Linked DNA regions of Homo sapiens. The protein of the gene in region 4 purifies or fractionates together with the protein of the main gene of each other region. This does not show direct contact. Each region holds a gene or a part of one and is shown on either strand. Other genes may lie near its edges.

Evidence for each region.
Region 1: the proteins of FAM219A (region 4) and NEDD1 purify together in Homo sapiens (co-immunoprecipitation; one large-scale study listed by IntAct). This does not show direct contact.
Region 2: the proteins of FAM219A (region 4) and ATE1 purify together in Homo sapiens (affinity purification with mass spectrometry; 3 studies listed by BioGRID and IntAct, with this or other methods). This does not show direct contact.
Region 3: the proteins of FAM219A (region 4) and MTA1 purify together in Homo sapiens (affinity purification with mass spectrometry; 3 studies listed by BioGRID and IntAct, with this or other methods). This does not show direct contact.
Region 5: the proteins of FAM219A (region 4) and UBR3 purify together in Homo sapiens (affinity purification with mass spectrometry; 3 studies listed by BioGRID and IntAct, with this or other methods). This does not show direct contact.
Region 6: the proteins of FAM219A (region 4) and CTU2 purify together in Homo sapiens (affinity purification with mass spectrometry, with the first as the bait; one large-scale study listed by BioGRID). This does not show direct contact.
Region 7: the proteins of FAM219A (region 4) and MTA3 purify together in Homo sapiens (affinity purification with mass spectrometry; 3 studies listed by BioGRID and IntAct, with this or other methods). This does not show direct contact.

Annotation. Positions count from the first base shown.
Region 1 is NC_000012.12:96,934,757-96,938,256, reverse strand, and holds part of NEDD1 (protein NEDD1), read right to left. Parts: intron 3,282-3,500; coding exon 3,052-3,281; intron 1,647-3,051; coding exon 1,445-1,646; intron 1,060-1,444; coding exon 864-1,059; intron 1-863. UniProt on the Homo sapiens protein: Required for mitosis progression. Promotes the nucleation of microtubules from the spindle.
Region 2 is NC_000010.11:121,739,924-121,743,031, forward strand, and holds the end of ATE1 (arginyl-tRNA--protein transferase 1), read right to left. Parts: 3' UTR 501-3,108; downstream 1-500. UniProt on the Homo sapiens protein: Involved in the post-translational conjugation of arginine to the N-terminal aspartate or glutamate of a protein. This arginylation is required for degradation of the protein via the ubiquitin pathway. Does not arginylate cysteine residues.
Region 3 is NC_000014.9:105,457,827-105,461,326, reverse strand, and holds part of MTA1 (metastasis-associated protein MTA1), read right to left. Parts: intron 3,058-3,500; coding exon 2,955-3,057; intron 970-2,954; coding exon 870-969; intron 563-869; coding exon 374-562; intron 1-373. UniProt on the Homo sapiens protein: Transcriptional coregulator which can act as both a transcriptional corepressor and coactivator. Acts as a component of the histone deacetylase NuRD complex which participates in the remodeling of chromatin.
Region 4 is NC_000009.12:34,399,571-34,403,070, reverse strand, and holds part of FAM219A (protein FAM219A), read left to right. Parts: intron 1-263; coding exon 264-366; intron 367-603; coding exon 604-684; intron 685-1,350; coding exon 1,351-1,405; intron 1,406-1,948; coding exon 1,949-2,107; 3' UTR 2,108-3,500.
Region 5 is NC_000002.12:169,833,954-169,837,453, reverse strand, and holds part of UBR3 (E3 ubiquitin-protein ligase UBR3), read right to left. Parts: intron 1-3,500. UniProt on the Homo sapiens protein: E3 ubiquitin-protein ligase which is a component of the N-end rule pathway. Does not bind to proteins bearing specific N-terminal residues that are destabilizing according to the N-end rule, leading to their ubiquitination and subsequent degradation.
Region 6 is NC_000016.10:88,709,503-88,712,699, reverse strand, and holds part of CTU2 (cytoplasmic tRNA 2-thiolation protein 2), read right to left. Parts: intron 2,763-3,197; coding exon 2,684-2,762; intron 2,478-2,683; coding exon 2,418-2,477; intron 1,066-2,417; coding exon 1,005-1,065; intron 640-1,004; coding exon of another isoform or gene 427-639; coding exon 317-426; intron 79-316; coding exon 1-78. UniProt on the Homo sapiens protein: Plays a central role in 2-thiolation of mcm(5)S(2)U at tRNA wobble positions of tRNA(Lys), tRNA(Glu) and tRNA(Gln). May act by forming a heterodimer with CTU1/ATPBD3 that ligates sulfur from thiocarboxylated URM1 onto the uridine of tRNAs at wobble position.
Region 7 is NC_000002.12:42,718,632-42,722,131, forward strand, and holds part of MTA3 (metastasis-associated protein MTA3), read left to right. Parts: intron 1-356; coding exon 357-443; intron 444-3,500. UniProt on the Homo sapiens protein: Acts as a component of the histone deacetylase NuRD complex which participates in the remodeling of chromatin.

The DNA.
Region 1 (3,500 bases), on a different chromosome or scaffold from region 4:
TGATACAGATATTCACAGGAAATTTATAGTGAATATACTTACTTTAAAATACTACTCCACACTATCAAGATCAACAAATTAAAGTTTTGCTTCTACTTGGAAATAGCAAAATCATGCTAAAAAAAAACACCAATAAATATTTTTGCCCAAGTATTTATCCTGAAAAATTTAAAAGACATGGATATATGTATTTCTACTAAGCACAATATTTCAGAAACATACTAGTATACCATGTAGACTTTCTAAAGTATTTGTTGCACGTTGACAGTATAGCATAACTTCTTAAAATAAAAATGAAAAGGTTTTCAGGAATTTACAGAATATTTTTTTATTGTGAGCAAGAAATATTTTCTACAATAAGAGAAAGCTTATCATATAACACATCAATAAAGTCTAAATGAATCCTGTTTCAGAACTGTTTCGCCAATTACATGAGAGAAGAAGAAATCATTAGAAATTGCAACATTCTCATTTATTTTTATTTAATGAGATCAAATCATAAGACAGTGTCAAAGTTTCATATTTTCTACTGGTTAATCTGAAGACACAATGAAAAGCCATTCAGTCTTTAGTAGTATTAAGGATGAATAATTTCTGAGTTAGCCTCCTTCCATTTTTAAGACAATATTTCTCACAAGAGAAGTTTAGCTAAACAATAAGGGCCTTTTATCATTTTTGAAATTAATAGCCAAAGTTACTATTTTCACTTCTTCAATGATTTTCACTTCTACTAATTTTACCTAAGTACTCAAATAAATTTGAGTTCTATGTTCTTGAAGAATGTGCTAATTATATGCAAGCCAAAAACAAAAAAACAAAAAAAAAACAAACCAACCCTCCAACAATATATAAGCAACATTTACCTGCTTTTTCTTGAACAGCAACTGTTCCTTTCCCCATAGCTGATGTCATAGGTTGTGGTAGAACTGTGGCAATGGACGTGGCAGGTGCTTCTCTGACAATTCCGGAATTCTGAACTCCTCCACTAGCAGCATTCACATTAACACTTCGTTTGTTCACTGTTGTGGGCTTATTTGAACAGCCTTTATTTAAACTTGACTGAAATGTAATGGAATATTTAAAAGCTCAGGTTACTAATGTTTCATACTATACATTAATATTTTATAAATTCCCTGTTAGATTAAAAAATATATTTTTTTCCTTGCAAATCTTAAGCTTGCTGGCAGACCTGAGTTTCCCTCTAAATTAAAATGTCTTTTAAAATACTTTTAAAAAGAGAGATATATAAGGAGAAAAAAAAAAGAAAAAAAGTTTTAAAACTAAATATCAAATGGCTTTGTACTAAAATTATTATACATTACATGTAAAATCATTATGTAATTATGAAACAAAACTATACTGTTTAATTGACCACATATAATTTCCATATTCTGAGTTAGATTTATTTAATAAAATAAAAAATGCTGAAAAGAAAATGTCTCACCTTAGTAAGAACAGTGGAGTACTGAAATGCTATACACTGCACAGATGTCTTGTGAGCACTGATGGTCTTAACTGGTGATTTCAACATTCTTAAATCATATTGATATATTTTCCCCCGGGAAGATCCAATAGCCAAAGTGGCTCCATCAGGCATGAAATCTACCGCAGTTAGAGGAGTGTCAGCCACTAAAGTTTTCACTAGCCTTTGGAAAGGAGAACAAAGTATGTGTAGAAATGTTAGTGTGTACAGGTATATTAGCTTATATAAGTAACTATATACCAAAACCAGAGTTATTAACACTTCAAACTGGTCAAAGAGCACACATATCCCAAATATTTGTTTAAAGCATAATTTCAGAATTTGACTTAGAGACATTTCTAATAAAATGGCATATAGAGAACTGCTAAACATTCCATCTTACTTTTCTATTCACTTCCAATAGGTACATTCTGCATCTTATAGAAGCAGCACCTATTTCTTTAATTATTACTCTGACAGTGAATGTAGCAGAACTGTCTATTACGCCACAAACAGGGGCTCTGGCCTCATGGTTGAGGAGGGCCTAAGTATCCACTTTCCATTTATTGACCTGCTTAGGCCTCATGAGGACTATGACCTTTCACAGGGGAGCAGCTGTTACTTTGTTCTTAGTTGTACAGTCTTGGCCAAAAAGCTAAGAGGAACACAGTTCACATGCTTGATCCTTAGGAAGCTAATAAAGAAATACGGATGGTGATCTGCTGAAGCTGAGCTCTTTACTGGTGTGTATAGTAGAAAAGAAGAATGGCTTACTGGGCTCTCAGTAAATTGTTCCATAAAAGAAGACAGCAAATAAGTCCTAACAGTAAAAATTCTAGCATCATAATAAAGGCTGACAGTGGGACCTTCCCTTGTAGTAACATTCATACTCCACATGATCTACAGACAGTGGTAAGCATCTTGAATACAACTGTATCACTCTTGCATTCTTTTGTTTTTGTTTTTGTTTTTTAGCTAACTAAGCATACCTAAATTTAACAAGAAGAGGGTACAGTGGGCCCAAATGCTTAGAGGATTATGTACACCAGTACATAATCAGTATTTCTCAAGTGGGTGCTCCCAGGTTGTCCCTGGTTACTACCAGGGGACATCTGACAATGTCTGGACACAATTTAGGCCATTGGTATTTAGTAAGCAGAGGCCAGGGATGCTGATGAATATCCTACAATACCCAGGACAGCCCCTCACAACAAAGAATTACCCAGCCCAAAATGTCAATCGTTTCTAAACCTTCCTCTAGATAATTAATCAGTTTTAAAGCAAATTAATCATTTGGGTTAAAAACATATGCATTTTATCATATTGTGGAAAAGATGCTAAAATTAAAATGTGAAATCATTAAGATGTCATCTCTCTATGTTCATGTTTCAGAAGTACCCTAAATACTACCTGCAACCCATCTATTTCTTTCTGCATAAGAAGAAAATTCTTTCTTACTAGATCCATCAACTGTACAAACTTTAGGACCCCTGGACACTAATCAGAGGTCTATATAAATCACAAATATGCCTGTTAATGGAATAATAGCTATTTGTTACTAAATTAAGAAATAAGCATGTCACACTTACTTCTTACTTGAAGTGTCATAGAGGATGATTCTTTTATCCAAGCCTATGGTTACAAAGAGCAATTCATTGACAGGAGAAAAACAGATGCCTGACGCTGGAGCTTTGTGTACACTGTCAAAGTTATGGTATGGACTCTGACTATTTACATCCCAGAGAGTTACTATTCCATTATCCGAAACACTGCCCAGTAGTGATTTCTTAAACAAGGAGTACTTCAAGTGCCGAACAGACTATAAAAATGAAAGAATAAATTTTATGTAATTATAAGCATTCATAAGGACATTTGATATAAGCCATATAAATTATGGCCAACCACACTATTCACATGGGGTTTAGGATTTCTCTGATGTGTAAGAGTGACAGGTTTCAGCCAGACGTGGTGGCTCACGCCTGTAATCCCAGCACTTTGGGAGGCCGAGGCAGGTGGATCATCTGAGGTCAGGCGTTCA
Region 2 (3,108 bases), on a different chromosome or scaffold from region 4:
GGAATTGTAACTAATATTTAAATCACTTGGAAATAGGATTCATTTTATCACCAACCTACCAGGACCCTCTTTACTGTAAAGAGATAAAACACTAGTAAATGTATTGCATAAATATACCACAGACTATTATGAACAATTAAAGCACACTTTATATTTTTTAAAATTTCTCTGTAAACGTTCTAAGATAAATTATATTTGAATTTGATAAAGTCCTATTTTGAATCCCTTTGGGTTATAAAAGTCTATTCCCTAATTTATCTTGTGAAAATCCAGACTTCTGGCTTAAAATGGGATTTACTTTACTCTCTGAGAAAGGAATCCACCGTACTTTGATTTAGATAACCACATGGTCTGGAACTCCATTTAGTGAAAATTAAATTTTATGACTCATATAGCCAATGTTTTACCTCTGTTTTCTACATATTCACAGCAGGTGAAATGTGTTCAGGAATTTAAAGATGAAAACATATGTCTTTTAAGTAATGACCACCAAGAGCCACTGCAGATAGAAACAGCTTTATTTTTTCCATTCAGGCTTTATCAAATAGCTTGTTCAAAAAGCATATACAAGAGCAAAAAATACCACATGCAGTCAAACTTCTTTTGCCTTATAGTCATTGGCTTTCTTTTAGAAAAGAGTGTGCACTTGAATAACTTCTAATTCAAACATTTTCCAACTGTTTCTACTTCATTTTTCAAGTTAGCAACGACAGATACATTTTAGTTAACTGTTTCATATTCCTTATCTTTATTCATACTGAAATAATATAAAGCCTATAAAATCAAAGCATATACTGTTCAGAAATCTGGAAAGGTTCTTTTACATAATAGATTCTGACACGTTAAGAAACTACACACAACAAATATTTGCAAAATGAATGAAAAATAGGATAAAGCTATTTAAAAGTCAACATAGTAATATTTATCTAAATAATTTTAATCAAATGTACAACATATTTATCTGATATCATCTATCTTTTAGAATACAAAAAAGTGCTCAGATTACATTTAAAAAAATAACAAAAATCTCTTAGAATGGAAATAATTTAAATAAGGACGGTAGCAAGGGGAATTGAAATTACATCTTTGCTCCCAAAACAGGAAGGCAGGTGTGATGTATTTGAAAATCAGAAAGGGACACAACACTAAGATTGCAAATGCAAAGCTTCCTGCCTTGGAAAGATATAAACTGTCTTTGAAAAGTCCTTGTGTCTTTCTTTACAGAAAGTTACGAACATAAAATCAGATCTCTCAGCTAGACTGCTGGTCAAGTAACAAGGTGGGTCACTTTTCTTGACTATGCTTTTCTAGTCCACTATCAGTATTCACTCAGCTGGGGCTCAAAAGGACAAATAGGTGTCCTTTTAAGACACTTTGACTACTTGGATCAATACACTAGCTATTCTCAAACCAACATAATGCATGAATACAGCAGCCAAGTAGAAGGATCTCCAATGCTCAAGTCACTCTGAGTCTTTGCTGGTGTCAACCTACAATGCCACCCTCAAGGAAAGCACAGTGGTTCACAGACAGGGATGATTCATCATTTTCCTCTGAAAATGAATTCTGCAGGAAGAAACCAGAGTTGTGGTAAGATGTTGGAGTCAAGTTTTCTCTTCATCTGATATTCAAGGGTTGTGATCTTTATGAATACCATTTTACATGCTAATCACAAAGACAAATGGAGGGAAGATACAGTGATAACACCAAGTTGGACATTCAAATGCTAAGCGAGCCAAGTACCAGCCCTACCCTGCTTATTTTTAATAATGCAGAGATTACTTACTACACTTTCTGAAGCCTTATTTTGAAATTTATTTCACATTTCAGACATGTCCATAATTTACTGTTGAGGAAATAAAACAGCATGTAGAACATAATTCTATTTATATTAAAATTACATAGGTATGTGTGTATACATACATGACAGTTCTTTTCTCCTTCTGAGTATGGTAGGGTTGTAGATGATTTTTACTTTTTATTTATACTTCTTAATGTTCTAACTGCTTACAGTGTCACTTTTGTTATAATCATAAAATGAAGCTCTTTTCATTTTAGAGGAAAAAGAGAAAAAAGGCTCTATAGATTCTGAAGGCAGTTCCAAGTAAGTCTCTCAAATGCTCTTACGAGACTACTTTGCAGGTCAAAATCCCAGAAAAATGTAAAATCTTGTGATCAGAGAAAATGGCTTTGCTCACTACTCTAGCTCGGTTAGCAGAGTACGCAGCACCTTGGCAGGTGTGACACACACACTCTGAATGAAGAAATGCGGCTGACTTGGATGTTGAGTTTCTAGAGATTTCAGTTTTAAAATCATTGTTTTATGATCCTTTTTATTCTAGTTAGCTGAGGATATTTTCAAATTTTTGTCAAAATTCAGTACATTTTAGAGGAAAGTTTAAAATTAGCAACAGGATTCAAACTACCATGTTTTATAACATGGCTTTTAAGAAACGATGAACCAAAACAGAAAAATGGGCAAAGTGGGGACTAAAAACGGCTTGCTGGCCAAATAGCTGGTAGCAGAAGAGGGGATCAGCTGACAAAGAGGGCACAAGAAAATAACCCTCCTGTTTTTCATCCTGTTTCCCAGACAGCTCGACTATAGCTAAGAAGGGACATGTCTGACTGTCCTCCTGTACCCAGCACAGTGCCTGCCACCTTGACAGGTGGGCAAAGGACTCAGCAAAAGAAAGTGAGGGAAGGAGGGGGCTGGCCTCTGCTCTGAGTTACTAAGGGTGGCAGAAGCCACCCTGACTGTGACTCTCAAATCAAAGGACAAGAAATGGATTGTTCTAGCTCTTGTCCTGGAACAGAGGTCGGAATGATTCCTTCTTCAATGTGATTTGTGGCATAACTATGAAAGTAATCACATACTAATTTCCATTAATAACCAAAGACAAATGTCCTGAGTTGTAAGATAAAAAACTAGTGACTATTTATTTCCTTTGGATGAGACTTAGATCAAGGCAGGAACCAACATTTTTCTTTAAAAAAATTCAATTTCTTACATTTTTAGAAGTAAAGCAAATAATATAACTAGAGTAATTATGTATTTTATTGTCCAAACTGGGATATTTTTTAGAGTAAAAGGGAGTACTATATTCT
Region 3 (3,500 bases), on a different chromosome or scaffold from region 4:
AGCTTAGTCAAAAACAAAGCAAAACCAAGCCTGGGGCTGGAGGGGGCAGCAAGGAAGGGAAAGTCTCCGTGAGGATACCCTGGCCTCCGTCACCTGGGCCAACCCTTATCCTCATCACGCAATGGTGGCAGGAGCATGGCTCTCTATGCCCAGGCCCCACCAGCGCCCCCATGCCTGTCTGCTGAACCAGTGTGACAGGAAGGACTATGGCGGCCGAGCGCAGCTGAGACAGAACTCATGCAGCTCCGCACAGGGAATCAGGGTGCAGGACAGGCTCCCTCAGGGCAGAGTGGGATGTGGAGCCCACACCCCCGCAGCCTACCTGGAGATGGGCATGGCCAGCCACTCCCCCATCGCCACCCACGGTACTCACAAAATCTTGCTGAATGTCCGTGAAATCCTTCCCATATTTTTCCAGGGCTTCCTCGAAAAGGTTGGCCTCTGATGCAGACCACTCCTCCATCTCGTCCCTGCAGAGCACGGGCCCGCCCTGCGGCACCAGCGCCGAGATGGCCTTGGAGATGTCGTAGATGTTCTTGTGGAGAGTATCCATGGCGTGGAACTGCGGCAGGAGACAGCAGGGTCACCCGGGCCAAGGTGGCTTTTCCTGCACCTGTGGCACGGTACCCCCTCCCTCAGTACCTCAAGGATCCCCTACTGCAGGCCCAGCAGCACAACCCTCCCTGCACCCTCAGCACAGTCTGGCCGAGTTTGGGGTGGATAGGAAAGGCCAGTCCAGGTGGGACAGCACCTCTGCAGGGGTCCTGAATACCTGGGGCAGGTGCTGGGCCCTGGTAGGAAGAAGGGCGCAGCCACTCTGGGCCATGGGCCACCCCAGGTCTCACCTGTCCCGCCCTGGGCCCACTTACCAGGGTGATGTCTCGGGAGGCAGCTGCGGCGCTCATGTGCAGGCTGGGCTGTCGGACGGAGCTGCTGCAGTCCAGGGCCCGTGCGAAGGTGCCCACAGAGCTGGGGAAAGGAGATGCGCTGACCACAGTGTCGGCCAAGCAGGGACTCCCCACAGGCACACCGCTCCCCAGGCGCCAGGGACCAGCGGCCACGGGCAGCACGGACTCCCCCAAGGCACACCACTCCCCAGGTGCCAGGGACCAGGGGCCATGGGCAGCACGGACTTCCCCCAGGCACACCACTCCCCAGGTGCCAGGGACCAGGGGCCATGGGCAGCACGGACTTCCCCCAGGCACACAGCTCCCCAGGTGCCAGGGACCAGGGGCCATGGGCAGCACGGACTTCCCCCACGCACACCGCTCCCCAGGTGCCAGGGACCAGGGGCCATGGGCAGCACGGACTTCCCCCAGGCACACAGCTCCCCAGGTGCCAGGGACCAGGGGCCATGGGCAGCACGGACTTCCCCCAGGCACACAGCTCCCCAGGCGCCAGGGACCAGGGGCCACGGGCAGCACGGACTCCCCCCAGGCACACAGCTCCCCAGGCGCCAGGGACCAGGGGCCATGGGCAGCACGGACTCCCCCCAGGCACACAGCTCCCCAGGGACCAGGGACCAGGGGCCACGGGCAGCACGGACTCCCCCCAGGCACACAGCTCCCCAGGGACCAGGGACCAGGGGCCATGGGCAGCACGGACTGCCCCCAGGCACACAGCTCCCCAGGCGCCAGGGACCAGGGGCCATGGGCAGCACGGACTCCCCCCAGGCACACAGCTCCCCAGGGACCAGGGACCAGGGGCCACGGGCAGCGCGGACTCCCCCCAGGCACACAGCTCCCCAGGTGCCAGGGACCAGGGGCCATGGGCAGCACGGACTGCCCCCAGGCACACAGCTCCCCAGGCGCCAGGGACCAGGGGCCACGGGCAGCACGGACTCCCCCCAGGCACACAGCTCCCCAGGGACCAGGGACCAGGGGCCATGGGCAGCACGGACTCCCCCCAGGCACACAGCTCCCCAGGCGCCAGGGACCAGGGGCCATGGGCAGCACGGACTCCCCCCAGGCACACAGCTCCCCAGGGACCAGGGACCAGGGGCCACGGGCAGCACGGACTCCCCCCAGGCACACAGCTCCCCAGGGACCAGGGACCAGGGGCCATGGGCAGCACGGACTGCCCCCAGGCACACAGCTCCCCAGGCGCCAGGGACCAGGGGCCATGGGCAGCACGGACTCCCCCCAGGCACACAGCTCCCTAGGGACCAGGGACCAGGGGCCACGGGCAGCGCGGACTCCCCCCAGGCACACAGCTCCCCAGGTGCCAGGGACCAGGGGCCATGGGCAGCACGGACTCCCCCCAGGCACACAGCTCCCCAGGGACCAGGGACCAGGGGCCACGGGCAGCGCGGACTCCCCCCAGGCACACAGCTCCCCAGGCGCCAGGGACCAGGGACAGACTGCATGAGCATCGCAGGGAGCAGCCCGCAGGTGGCGAGGACTCCTCGTGTCCTGGGCCCCAGGCTGCGGAGTAGGGCCCGGCACCCACCCCAGAACCCGTGTGCGTCTAACTGAGGGCATCCCGATAGATTGGCAGCCGCCTTGGGGCTTCTTTTGGGGTTTTCTCCACCTCCCAGGCTGCTGGCAGGGAAGGTGCATGGTCCTCTCCTGGGCCTCGGCCTTCGCCCTGCCCCAGGGGTCTGCCCGGGCTGCAGCTGCTCTGCTCCATGACCAGGCCCAGCCCACTTGCTCCCAGTGGCCCAGGAGTGGGAAAGCACCTCTGGCCCATCCTGGGAAAGCCCCATTAGGGACACATGGGCAGGCACACAGGCCTGCCCCCCAGAAGGGCCGCCCTTCTATTTAATGAAGGGCCTGGACCCAGCACTCCCGAGCCTCTCTGGGAACTGCTACCGGGGGTCTCAGGGCTGCAGCGCATGGGCTTCTTGTTGGGATATGGGATCCAAGACTGTCACGTCCCCAACACCCACCACAGGGAAGGGAGAACAGAAGCTCCAGGCACCACCCCTGCTGGCCTTGCCCAGGAGCAGGACTCACCGGGCCACCACCAGGAACTGGTCGATCTGCTTGTCTGTGAGTGGGTTGTGCGCCTCCCACACCTGGGTCTCCAACCTGGACTGGTCTCGGCCATCCTCCTCGCCTACAGGGAGGAAGTGTGGCCTTTCTGAGACGGGGTCCCACGGCGCGCCGGGCCGCGCCTCTCCTCCCCGGGTGCGGGGAGCTGCTGGGACGGGGAGGGGGAAGGGCTGCAGGGCCCCATAGGTGAGGCCAGGGTGCAAGGCTGGACGGAGGCTGTTGCACACACAGGCACACAGTGGCCTCTCAACCCGGGGCTGGGGTGCACACGCAAGGGGCCTCCCAGCCCACCCAGAATGCAGGGCTCCAAGAACTGTGGCCACAAGAGATGGGAAGGTTGGTTTGTAAATTTAAATCAAGCCTTTTTATTTATTTATTTATATTATTATTATTATTATTATTATTTTTTGAGACGGAGTCTCACTCTGTCGCCCAGGCTGGAATACAGTGGTACGATCTTGGCTCACTACAACCTCCGCCTCCCAGGTTCAAGCGATTCTCCTGCCT
Region 4 (3,500 bases):
ACACTAACTACCCTAACATGGGAGTTGTGGTTCCTGAAAAACAGGGGGCAGCCTCCTCTTTTTGCCCCCCACTGTCTGCCTCAGGTTGTGCAGGGCCAGGTACTATCTCCACCAAGCAGCAGGGGCCTGGAGTTGGGATCCCTGCCTCAGTCCTTCTAGGAGCAAGTGGTTTCACAGTGGAGGCCCAGCCCAGGCTGCCCTGAGTAGTAAGACAGGGTGGCCTCAGGGGCAGGACACAGCTTCCTTCCCATGTTCTCCTGCAGAGAAGCAGCGGGAGCTGGCCCGGAAGGGCTCCCTGAAGAATGGCAGCATGGGTAGCCCTGTCAACCAGCAACCCAAGAAGAACAATGTCATGGCCCGAACAAGGTAGAGGCCCTCCCTACCCCACCTGGACCCTGCCAGCCAGGACCTATTTCTGCTGGTCCTGAGCCTCCCCCTCTTCCCTCCCTCCTCAGGCCCAGCTCCTCTCTGAGAGGAGACAGCCTTAACAGGATCCAAGGTGGGGAGGGAGGGAAGAAAGTGGTGGGACGGGGCCCAACCCAGTCCCTTGCCAGGTTTCTATGCTCCACTTTGCCACTCTAACTCCCGAAATTCTTCACCTAGGCTGGTCGTCCCCAATAAAGGCTACTCCTCACTTGACCAGAGCCCTGATGAGAAGCCACTGGTAGCCCTTGACACGGACAGGTGTGTATGGGGGCTTGGGGGTAGCTGGGCAGCCCAAAGGAACCTGTATAGCACAAGTGGGCTGTACAGGCCACACCTGCTATATTGTCAGAATTGGGATATTCTTCAGCCAGAATCTCTCCAAGGGTGAATTCTCCAGGGATGGGAATTTTTTTACACCAGGGACTGGGGGTTGAAGAGAGGTGGCAGAGAGAGGAAAGGGGGGCCTGCGTTGTCTGCTGTCATCCTGGGACAACTGATCCAATGGTTGTCCCTAATTGGCCTGTGATGTTGTCTCTGGACAGCAGAATATGATGCTTAATGCCCCATCCCCTCAGGAAGGAGCCCTACTCCCTGGAAAACACCTGGCTAGACTTGGACTTTGGGAATATCCTACAAGTCAGGGTGATTTGAGTCTACAAAAAAAAAAAAAAAGATGAGAAGGGGGTGAAAGGAGTAACTGCTATATTTAGAAGGAGGTTAAGGATAGCAATTGATTTTAAGGGTGGGGCTAGGGAACTTGTCTTTAAAATCCTGCATTTGCACAGCAAGCACAGTTCGTATTGAGATTTTGCTATTTGGAACTGTAAGGGAGGTATAGGATGCTGCCTAATGGGAGGTGGGATTGCAGAGAGTTTTCTATGTAATTTCTTGGTATCACTTTCCCTCTCTTTCCTCCATGGCCAGCGATGATGACTTTGACATGTCTAGATACTCCTCCTCCGGCTACTCCTCTGCTGAGGTGAGCCCCTACCCCTTCTCACCCTAGACACCACCGGGCAGGATCACTGCCATCCCGGGGGAGGGCTGGGGCCAATGCCCAAGTACAAGGAAAAAGAGGGCTGGGCAAGGCTGGGTGGTGCCCTGCACAGGGTGGGCCTGGGATAGGATGGAAGAGAAGTGGTTACTGGCCTCAAGTGCATGGAGCCCAGGGTTAGGAGTGGGGCTTTAGATTGCAGCAGGCCATTTAAATAGAATGGGTGTAAAATACAGGTGATATCCTCTAGTAGCCGGCCTGAGATAGGGGCAAAACCCGAATAGGAGCAGGACCAGAGGTGTGAAGTTGACCATAGAATGGGGAGGGGTGACTAGAAAGAGAGGCCAGAGGCGAAGGAGGGCGCCTAGGCAGGAGCGGGGCCTGGGGGTACAGACAGACCCGGGACAGGGCGGGGCTGATATCCAGGGCACTGGCTGGACTGGGGCGCAGACGGCCTGGAGTGGCCGCAGAGCTGTGGGTGGTGCCTCCCTGCCGCTCGGGCCTGACCTCCCTCCCCTTTGCCTACAGCAGATCAACCAAGATTTGAACATCCAGCTGCTGAAGGACGGCTACCGGTTAGATGAGATCCCCGACGACGAGGACCTAGACCTCATCCCCCCCAAGTCCGTGAACCCCACGTGCATGTGCTGCCAGGCCACGTCCTCCACCGCCTGCCACATTCAGTAGCGGGCGGGGCCACTGCGGTCGCCGGGGCGGGGCCGCCAAGGGCCGGGTAGGACGGGCAGAGGCCGACCCCTTCCCAGCTCGTCTGCCTGCCCCCGGCCCCGCGCCCCTACAGCCGCCAACCTCGTATAACAGTCATTGCTTCCTCCTATGGTAGGACGTGTACCTCTGTGTGTTCATGGAGCTGGAGAAACCAAAACTGGGTCTCTCTCCACCCGGGAGCTGAGGAGGGGTGGGGGCCGTTTGTTCAGTTACCTGGGGGAACCTCACCCAGCACCCTGCCCCGCTTCCCAGGGCTGGCCAAGAGAGAAGACTGGACGGCAGGGAGGTCAACATTAACGAGTGGGGGGATCACAAAGCCAGGGGCTTGGCCCCACCCCAGCGAAGCCATGAACTCCCAAGCCCCGGCCTCAGCCTAACCAGGAAAGGGGCTCGGAGGGAGAAAGGCCCAGGGCAGTGGGGACGGGTCCCAGCACCTCGGAGCCCCCTTCACACGCCCCCTACCGGCCCATGTTTCTATTTGCATTTCCCCCTCCTCAGATGGGAAGCCTGGCAAAGCTGCCCAACCGGGTAGTGCCCCTCACCCATCGGATCACTGCCTTCTTCCTCCTCTTGCCCCATTCACCCGCTTCCTTGCACTCTGGGAGTGGGGCAGGGTAAGGTGGGCCTTACAGACAGGCTGAGGTTTGGGTGGTGTGATCTGTCCTAATTGGCCCCTCACCAATGCATCTATCTGTCTGCCACCAGCCCACCCCACCCTGCCCCCACCCTCACCCACGCTTCTGCTCATTGGTCTCAATCCCAGCCTGGAAGCAGGGAGTAAGGCTGGACTCCAATGGCCCATTCCCCTCACCCCAGCCCAAGACGTGGGAGGCTGCTTCCCAGTAAGAATCCAGGAGCAAGCTTTGGTGAATCCAGTGGGCTGAGTGGCTCTATGGATGTGGTTGTTTGGATGTGGTAGGGAGTGCTTAGCAGAATGTGTGTGTATCTCTGAGGCTGTCAGGGGGTGGGTGGGTGTGTGTCTCTGTTGGACCTGTCTCTCCTCAGTCTATTCCTGTCATAGATGTGGGTGTCCCTGGTAGGGAAGTGCCTGTGTGGTCTGTTTACAGTGCAGAAGGCGGCTCAGCAGTGCAATGGGCTGACAGCCTTGGACCGGGAGTCAGAAGCCTGGGTTCTGGTTGTAGCTCTGGCCCCTCCCTGTGATCTTCAACAAGCCACTTGCTTTCTCTCGTCTTCAGTTTCCTCAACTAGAAAATGAACAGCAGCTGAAATTATGTTGAAGATCCTTTTATACCTGAAAGAGTTTCTTCATAGAAATTTCTGTGGTGGGGAGGGGGCAATCTCTGTGTGTCTCAGTATACCTAAAGGTTGGGGTGGGGCGGAGTTGTGTGTCTCT
Region 5 (3,500 bases), on a different chromosome or scaffold from region 4:
CCCAGGCTGGAGTGCAATGGCGTGATCGCGGCTCACCGCAACCTCTGCCTCCCAGGTTCAAGCAATTCTCTTGCCTCAGCCTCCCGAGAAGCTGGGATTACAGCCACACGCCACCACACCCGGCTAATTTTGTATTTTTAGTAGAGATGGGGTTTCTCCATGTTGGTCAGGCTGGTCTCGAACTCCCGACCTCAGGTGATTCACCTGCCTCGGCTTCCCAAAGTGCTGGGATTACAGGCGTGAGCCTCCGGGCCCGTTCAGGCAGTTCTTTATAGCAGTGCGAAAACAGACTAATACAGACCTCAATCTCATACTACATGTAAAAATAAATTCCAGATGGACAAAAGACCTAAGTGTACAATGAAAAACCTTAAATCTTTCAGTAGAAAACATATAAGCATTTTTTTAAACCAAGGTGAAGAAGATTTCTTTAACAAGATACAAATAATACAAACTGTAGAAGAAAAACTACATTTTTAATTTAAAATCGTTTACAACAAAATTATATATTTCAAGGTAAAAAGACAAGACACAAACTAGAAGATGAAATTAAGTATTTATACAACAAAGGATCAGCATCTAGAGTATGTACAGCATTCTTAAAACTCAGTAAAACAGAAAAACAAAACAGGCAAATAATATGAACCAGCAGTTCACCAAGAAAGAAGCCCAAATGGCCCCAAAACATATGAAAAGATGTTCAACTTTACTAGTCAAGAAAATATAAATTTTAAAAAGATGTTTGTATCCAACAGATTGGTAAAATATTATAAATTTATATATATAACACCAAGTGTCTTTTGGTTTTTTTTTTTTTAAGTTCTGAATTACATGTGCAGGATGTACAGGTTACATAGGTAAATGGTTGCTGTGGTGGTTTGCTGCACCTATCAACTCATCAACTAGGTATGAAGCCCAGCATGCATTAGCTATTTTTTCTGATGCTCTCCCTCTCCCTGCCCCCGACCCAACAGGCCCCTGTGTGTGTTGTTCCCTTCGTGGTGTCCATGTGTTCTCATTAACACCAAGTTTCAATAAGCAGAAAAACAAGACCTCAAATTCCTGGTGGGGCCAGGCGTGGTAGCCCATGCCTGTAATTCCAGCACTCTGGGAGGCTGAGGCGGGAAGATCACCGGAGGTCAGGAGTTCGAGACCAGCCTGGCCAATATGGTGAAACCCCCATCTCTACTAAAAATATGAAAATTAGCTAGGCATGGTGGCGGCCGCCTGTAATCCCAGCTACTCAGGCGGCTGAGGCAGGAGAATTGCTTGAACTCAGGAGGCGGAGGTTGCAGTGAGCCGAGATCGCACCATTGCACTCCAGCCTGAGTCTGATGGGGACAGAGCGAGTTTCCATCTCAAAAAAAAAAAAAAAAAAAAAAAAAATATATATATATATATATATATATAGAGAGAGAGAGAGAGAGAGAGAGAGAGAGAGAGAGAGAGAGAGAGAGAGACAGTGCACACAGGAATTTCAGGAAAATGGTTAACGTCTGGAGAGGAAAAGAGAAAGGGAAAGGTGGGTTGACCTTTCTTTGGTTTTTTGACTAAAAGCAACTCTAGAGCAAACATGGCAAAAGGTTAATATCTATTCATCTCAATGGTAAGTACAAAGGTATCTGTTATACTACTTTTGTACTTTTCTGTAAATTCAAATTGTTTCATAATTGAAAATAGTTTTAACTGAGTTTTATAATGATTTAAAAATTAGGCCACGCACGGTGGCTCACGCCTGTAATCCCAGCACTTTGGGAGGCCAAGGCAGGTGGATTGCCTGAGGTCAGGAGTTCCAGACCAGCCTGACCAATATGGTGAAACCCCACCTCTACTAAAAATACAAAAATTAGCTGGGCATGGTGGCATGCACCTGTAGTCCCTGCTACTAGGGAGGCTGAGACAGGAGAACCGCTTGAACTCAGGAGGCAGAGGTTGCAGTGAGCCGAGATCATGCAACTGCACTCCAGCCTGGCAACAGAGTGAGACTCCATATCAAAACAAACAAACAAACAAAATATGAATATTTTAGGTGTAGTATTGGTATTGTGGTTTTGGGGGAGTTGTTTGTTTTTTGCTTTCTTTTCAAGAGATGAGGTCACTTCATGTTGCTGAGGCTGGAGTGCAGTGACTATTCCCAGGTGTGATCATAATCCACTGCAGCCTCTTACTCCCAGCCTCAAGCAATACTCCCAACTCAGCCTCGGGAGTAGCTGGGACTACAGGTGCGAGCCACCATACCTGACATTATTTTTTAATTGTGGTAAAATATAAATAACATAAAATTTACCATTTAAAACATCTTAAGTGTACAGTTTTAGTGGCATTAAGTACATTCACATTGTTTTGCAACCATCACAACCATCGATCTCAAGGACTTTTTCATCTTCCCAAACTGAAACTCTGTACCTGTTAAAAAAATAACTCCCCAATCTCCCCTTCCCTTGGCCTCTGATAATCACTATTCTACTTTCTGTCTGTATGAATTTGACTATTCCGGGCACTTCATATAGACCGAAGCATACAAGCATTTGTTCTTTTGTGCTGGGCCTATTTCATTTGGCATAAGGTCTTCAAGGTTTATCTACATTGTAACATTCTAATGTGTCAGAATTTTATTACTTTTTAAGGTTAAATATTCCATTGTACGTATATTCCACATATTGCTTACCCATTCATCTGCTGATGGACATTTGAGTTATGTTTTAGAGTTCACATCTCTTTACTGAGATGCATACTCAAATATTTTTAAATTAAATTATAAGGTATCTGATATTTGCTTCAAAATAGTCCTGGCTGGGACGAAAAAGCAGTGGGACAGGGAGATAACAGATGAAATGGGATATAACTTTTCACTTATGAGAGCAGCAAAGATCAGAAACACTGATACCACCATATATACTGCCAGAATATGGGGAAACAAATTGTTTCATACATTGTTGGCAGGAATGTAAATTAATTTCTTTGGAGGGTTCTATCAAAGTTGAATTTGCAAATTTCCTTCAACCAAGATATAACTTCTAGGAATGTATCCTCATACATAAGCTCACACACATATGAACAAGTGTATACAAGAATACTGACTGCAACAATGTTTACAACAGCCCAAGTCTGGAAACAATTTAAATGTCTATCAGTAGGGACTGACCGCAAAAATCATAGTACATTACAAAAACATGGAAATACAATGAAATACTATTTAACTTTAAAAATGAAGCAGTTCTACTTTTGAGATAGTATCCATAAATATGTTAAGGGGAAAAAAGCAAGCTACTGAAGAGAGTAACACTATTCAACCAGACATTCACGTGGTTCAATTTCTGGCTACCACAGATCAGAAAACCTAAAAACCTCCCACAACACAGGCCAGGCACCACACTGTGGCTCACGCCTATAATCCCAGCTCTTTGGGAGGCTGAGGCAGGTAGACTGCTTGAAGCCAGGAGTTCAAGACCAGCCTGGCCAACATGGTGAAATACCATCTCTACAAAAAATACAAAAAG
Region 6 (3,197 bases), on a different chromosome or scaffold from region 4:
GGCCGCCTTGTAGGCCCCCTCGGATCCCACCAGCTCCTGGGCAGAGCACCAAAGCACCGACGGTGGCAGGCTGAACACCTTCCGGGATGAGGGAGACGCCAGTGAGGCCCGGGACACGGGCAGGTGCCCCCCACAGACAGCCCCACCTTCCGGGATGCGGGAGACGGCAGTGAGGCTGGGGCACGGGCAGGTGCCTCCCACCCCCCACCGACAGCCCCGCCTTCTGGGATGAGGGAGAGGCCAGTGAGGCTGGGACACGGGCAGGTGCCCCCCAGGGGTCACCTCCGGGACCCCTTTCCAGGGACAGCCCTCCCACCTCCTCTAAGGCCACCACATGCCATGGGAACCCAGTTGCTTGCAGAATGGGCTTCACTTCGGCCAGGGTCTTTGATCTCTCCTCTAGGCTCTGGCCACAGGCTGCTCCCTCTGAAAAACCCAGGCAGAAAGAGTCAGGGCTCAGAGAGGAGCCAGGCAGGGCAGGCTGCAGGGCCACCTCCACCTGGGAAAACCCTTCGAGGCCTCGCTCCGCAGGGCGGTGCTTCCTGGCGGAGCTGTGGGGTGTCGGCCATTTTCCTTTGGGCAGGGGTTTCTCTCTTGCGGCTGACCTCAGCGCTACAGTCAACACCCCAGGAGTTCGTTCTGCAGGAGCAAGGGTCGGGGAGTCGGCCCCTGGGCCCCCGCTCACCATCAGCACTTAACTTGCCCTTCTTTGTCCCCAGACCCCGTGATGGGGGCTGGGCAGCCGCCACTCCTGCTCCCACCCCCGACTTTCTAAGGATGTTCTTAGATTCCAGGAACAGTGATGCCACCTAACGATGGATACATCTGCTGCCTCCTTCAGGGAGATGTCCCCACCAGGCCCTCAGTGCAGGGGCAGCACCAGTAGCTCAACACATCCTACCAGAGGGAGGACCGGCACCAGAGGGAGGGTCCACACCAGAGGGAGGATCCGCAGGGCTTACCCCAAGTGGCCAGGGACTAGGAGGAGCAATGGCCCCACATACCGTCAACAAAGATGACTCCTGCCACAAAGCGCAGTCTTTTGGCAGAATCTTGGCTCAGGCCCTAGAGGGAGAAGCAGCAGGGACTCAGCCCCCAGCCATAAGCCACAGGACACTTTTCCAGCTCAGAACATTCTTCATCTGGATTTAATGCCATCTTGGAAGGTGAAGTGGTCTTCCCCTGCCATTGCGTTTATTGGACAAAGCCATTCAGACTCAGGTGCCGGGCAGGCCCAGTAGGCGAGGCCGCACGCCCGACTTATTTTAAAGGGTAGCCTGGGGGTCTTCATCCCCCTGGTAAAACATGCCCCTCACCAGCTGGTCCTGGATGTCCCAACAACGCCCCAGGAGAGGGGGCTGGGTTACGGGGCCACTGTGCCACCATCCCACACGCTTCTGACCACTAAGGAAGCACTTGCTCTCACAAGCAGAAACCAACAGCCTGCAAGAGGCAGGGGCGCCGCTGGGCACAGGAAGGGCAGCACCAGCGTTACACAGAGGGCTGGGCCAGTTCCCTCACAACACCCTCCTGGCAGGTTCAGGGGACCTCAGAAAACAGAAAACTAATTTCAGCAGTGTTGTGCCATGCGCCCATCCTGAGACCAACACCCCACTCCTCAACCCGGCAAAGCCGACCCCTCTCCTCTCAACCACCCAGCCCACAGAAACAGCCTCCTCCGGTCTGCACCTCTCATGAGAGTGCAGAGAAACCAAGCACATCCCGCTCCTGTGCCCTCCTGAGAAGCCCGACCTGCCTCAGACTTCCTGAGCTGACCCTTGACAGGCCACGGGCACAGCCCCACCACCCCCAGCCGAGCCCTGTGTGCAGCCTAAGCCCGCCTCCACCTCCCTGCGCGGGCCGCCGCCTCCACCTCAAACGCTGCTCCCTTTGCTTCTCCTGGCAAACCCCCGCCCCTTTCCCAATCTTCCCTCGGGTCACACATGGCTGAGCCAAGATGCAGCTTTCCACTGACTGTGTTTCTACGCAGGTTGAGCAAATGGACAGAAGTCAAGTGGGCCGCACACACGCACTCTGGACCCAGCTTCTGATTGGTGCACCTGCTGTAAACACATCTGAGAGTGGGCCGCACACACGCACTGTGGACCCAGCTTCTGATTTGTGCACCTGCTGTAAACACATCTGAGAGTGGGCCGCACACACGCGCTGTGGACCCAGCTTCTGATTTGTGCACCTGCTGTAAACACATCTGAGAGTGGGCCGCACACACACACTGTGGACTCAGCTCCTGATTGGTGCACCTGTTGTGAACACATCTGAGAACCCCCCAAGTGTCCAGGCCGCAGGGTGGACTGCTCTCTAGCCCCAACCAAGAGCCCCTCAGCAGGCTGAGAAGGGAGGCCCCCAGCCTGAAGCTCAGCCCAGCAGCCCGGGCCCACGGGGTGGTGAACACGCACCTCAAGAACCTGCCAGACCATGGAGCTGGACGAAGGCCCCCCAGACCACGCCAAGAGCACCTGGGGGAGAAAAAACATCACTCAGGGCACCGCACCTCCAACACAGGCAGACACCCCACCTCGTGGACATCTAGGACATCGAGTCTGTCCTCAAAGGCCAAGGAGGAGCTGGCGGGCTGCAGCAGGCCAGGCTGCCTGTGGGAGGGACAAGCAGGGACCTCGAGGGGCCAGGCTGCTCAGTCAGACCCCCAGGACCCAGACGCTACCTTCTCGCCTGGAAAGATGAGCCGGTTCTTGCCCAGCATGGCTCTGAACTTGTGGACGTAGAAGGCCTTGAAACAGTCCCTGCAACACAGACCTGAGATGAGGGAACCGCCTGCTACCCGCACAGTGAGCAGCGTCCTGAGGCGCTGCCAGGTGACGACGTCCTTTGCCAATCTCCATCTTTAAAAGCAGCATCTTCACATCCAGGCTCTGTCCAGAGACTGGTGAAAGGGGCGGGGTTGGCCCCTCTGGCAGTGGCTTCCTCAGGGTGAACACGAGGCTCACCGGCCCCTCCCACGACCAGGTACAAACTGCACAGCCACGGAGGCTGCATCCAGCAAACGAGGGCAGAGCCCCGGCACCCCTCCCCACAGGCGCTCAGAAGGGCCCAGCTGGTGGAGTGGACAGACTTAGGCACGTACAGGGCAAGGCCAACCCAGACCCCATAAAAAAAGACCCACCACATACAGACACCACCTCTTGGAGGTGAAACGTGGAAATGGAGCGGGCCACAGC
Region 7 (3,500 bases), on a different chromosome or scaffold from region 4:
GTGCACCTGTAATCCCAGATACTCAGGAGGCTGAGGCAGGAGAATTGCTTGAACCCAGGAGGTGGAGGTTGCAGTGAGCTGAGAGCACGCTATTGTACTTCAGCCTGGGTGACAGAGTGAGCCTCCGTCTCAAAATAATACTACTACTAATAATTACATGTTATTTTATGTAAATCCCATTTAGAAATTGGGAACCAGAACTAGAAACCATTTTCTCAAACCCAAAAGGAAATTATGCGGGAATCTGGTGGCTATTTTGTACTGTTTTCCACTTGTACCTTTATTTCTGTGGTGCATGTAGTCTGGCTAGAGAAATCCATTTCATTGGTTATCTCCATGTTTCTTTCTCTCCTCAGATGCAGACAGACATGCTGAACTATCTGGAAGTCCACTGAAAAGCAAAAGCACTAGGAAGCCTTTGGCATGTATCATTGGGTATTTAGGTGGGTATTTTCTAATAGAGGAAAAACTCAAAGAGCAATTTCTGAATAGTATAGATATTTGGCAATTCTAAATGGACATACCTAAACTAATTCAGGCCCTTCAAATAGCCGAAATTGGATACCTTTATATAGTCAGTTTATTTTGTTTCAGAAACTTTTATTACCAGCACACACAACACACACACATACACACACAGATTTATGATATATGTCTACTTTTTCCAAAAAGCCATCGAATAAAAATGTAATATATATTCATGGAAATAAATACAGATTAAGCAAAAAAGAAAATGAAAAGCATTCAGTTAGTACTTAGGATGAATAGTCTTAATATTCTTCTTCAGATCCCTTCCCTGTTTCTAACTCACCTCACCTCTTTTTAAATAGAAGATTTATTTACTTATTAAAATGAGATCAAACTGGTTTATAACTTATCTTAAAATAATTATAGGTTTTAATTTTTTATTTTATTTGTTTTTTGTAGAGACAGGGTCTCGCTTTGTTGCCCAGGCTGGTCTCAAACTCCTGGCCTCAAGCGATCTTCCTGCCTTGACTTCCCAAAGTGCTGGGATTACAGATGTGAGCCACTGCTTCAAGCCTTAAATATTTATAGTTTTGGTGTGCTTTAGGTGACTTTGAAGGGGAGGCATTTGTATTGCTTTCTTATTTTTATCATGCCATCTGACTTGGAAATCTCCAAAGATGATAGCTCCATTTTTATGTTGAAATATCACAATTAAGAATAGTATACAAAATTACTATGCAATAATCTCTTTGTTTAAACAAAGTTTTAAGAGAAATAACTTACAAAATAATGGTTTTTCACATACCTAGAAGCAAGAATGGCATGTTTTTGTGCTTCTCATAGTTCTTTTTCAGTAAAGTGAAATATGTACTCAGAGTTGCTTTGACAGAAAGATTTATAATTATGAAATGTTCAGACTGCAGACATCAACTCTTTTAAAAATCAAAGTGTAGTCTTGAATTTGGTATATTATCTAGTCCTTACCCAAAAGAATGTTCCAGGATTCAGAGGCTCAAAGCTTCTTCTTTGATGTTACTGTACTACCTTATTCCTTGCTTTATTTATTTATTTATTTATTTATTTTATTTATTTATTTTTTTTGAGACGGAATCTCACTCTTCTGTCCAAGCTGGAGTGCAGTGGCGCAATCTCGGCTCACTGCAAGCTCCGCCTCCCAGGTTCACGCCATTCTCCTGCCTCAGCCTCCTGAGTAGGTGGGACTACAGGCATCCGCCACCACGTCCAGCTAATTTTTGTATTTTTAGTAGAGACGGGGTTTCACCTTGTTAGCCAGGAGGGTCTCAATCTCCTGACCTCATGATCCGCCCACCTCGGCCTCCCAGAGTGCTGGGATTACAGGCATGAGCCACTGCGTCCGGCCATTTCTTGCTTTATTTCTCAGGGGTTAAAGAGTTGTTTTGATATCCCCTGAAAATGTCACATGGTTATTGTACACATGACCTACGTAATGGTGGTAATGTCCTTGAAGAGTGCGGTCTGTATTCCCTTGCAGAACTGTCTCCAGATGCCCCTTCCCACCTTGCATGGGAAAGTTTCTGATCACAAAAAATAGAATAGGCCGGGCATGGTGGCTCATGCCTGTAATCCCAGTACTTTGAGAGGCAGGCGGATTGCTTGAGTCCAGGAGTTTGAGCCTGGGTAACATAGCAAAACCCTGTCTCTACCAAAAATACAAATATTAGGCAGGTGTGGTGGTGCGTGCCTGTGGTCCCAACTACTCAGGAGACTGAGGTGGGAGGATTGACCGCTTGAGCCCAGGAGGCAGAGGTTGCAGTGAGCCAAGATTGTGCCACCACACTCCAGTCCAAGTGACCAATTGAGACCCTGTCTCAAAAAAAAAAAAAAAAAAAAAAAGAAAAGAAAAGAAAAAAAGAATATAACATTATTAGCCTTTCCAAGAATAATTGTGTGCTCCTACTGTGGGCAAATTGGTCTCTATATCTACCAGATAGGCCCAGACTGTGCTGTTCTTACCAGCTGAACCACATCCCTACACAATATATTTATGAGTATTTATATGTTGAAAACACTGTACTAAGTGATTTGGGGAACACCAAGATGGGTAAGACCTTGCCCTCAAAATTCTTAGTGTAGTGGGGAAAGCAAGCAGGTAAGAACAATAAAACAAAGGATTAGATCCTGTAAAATAATTACAGGTAATATGCGTTGGGCACTTGGAGGAAGGACTGTTCTTTTTCTTTTTCTTTTTCTTTTTTTTTTTTTTTGAGATAGAGTCTCACTCTGTCACCCAGGCTGGAATACAATGTCTCCATCTTGGCTCACTGCAACCTCCACTTCCCAGGCTCAGGTGATCCTCCCACTTAAGCCTCCTGAATGGCTGGGACTACAGGTGTGCACCACCACACTTGGCTAATTTTTAAAAATTTTTGTAGAGACAGGGTTTCACCATGTTGCTCAGGCTGGTCTCGAACTCCTGGACTCATGCAGTCTGCCCACCTTGGCCTCCCAAAGTACTGGGATTACGGATGTGAGCCACTGCACCTGGCCAATGAGGGAATTTTTTCTAATGAGCGTTAGGGCAGCCTACCTGAAGAAAGTAATAGTTAATTTCAGCCTTAAAAGATATTTAGGATTCGAATAGGTAGAAAAATAGGAAAAGCGTATTCTCTTCCCTCATAAGGCCAAGACAACCAGATGAACAAAGGCTTCAGTGAGTCCAAGGACTTGAAAGCAGCTTGTTTGGTCTAGATGGAGCATAGACTGTGGAGGTTAAATGAAATGCAAGGCTGGCAAACTTGTCATGTCATGTTGGAGAAAAAAAAATCACTTTTTTCGGTGGTAGTATTTAAGCCATTTCTAAATTTTGGCAAGTGTGGGACTTTGACCAGAGCTGTAGTAATTCTAACAATTCCAATGGCTTTTCCTAAATTCCAGTAAATAAGGGTGATATCTCAGCCCTTACCTTCAGTGAAAGGGTGAGAAGGCAGGGTGGCTTGTGTGTAGTTGGCCAGCTGCATGATGACTCTGAGAATCAGTGAGCTGCTAAGCTT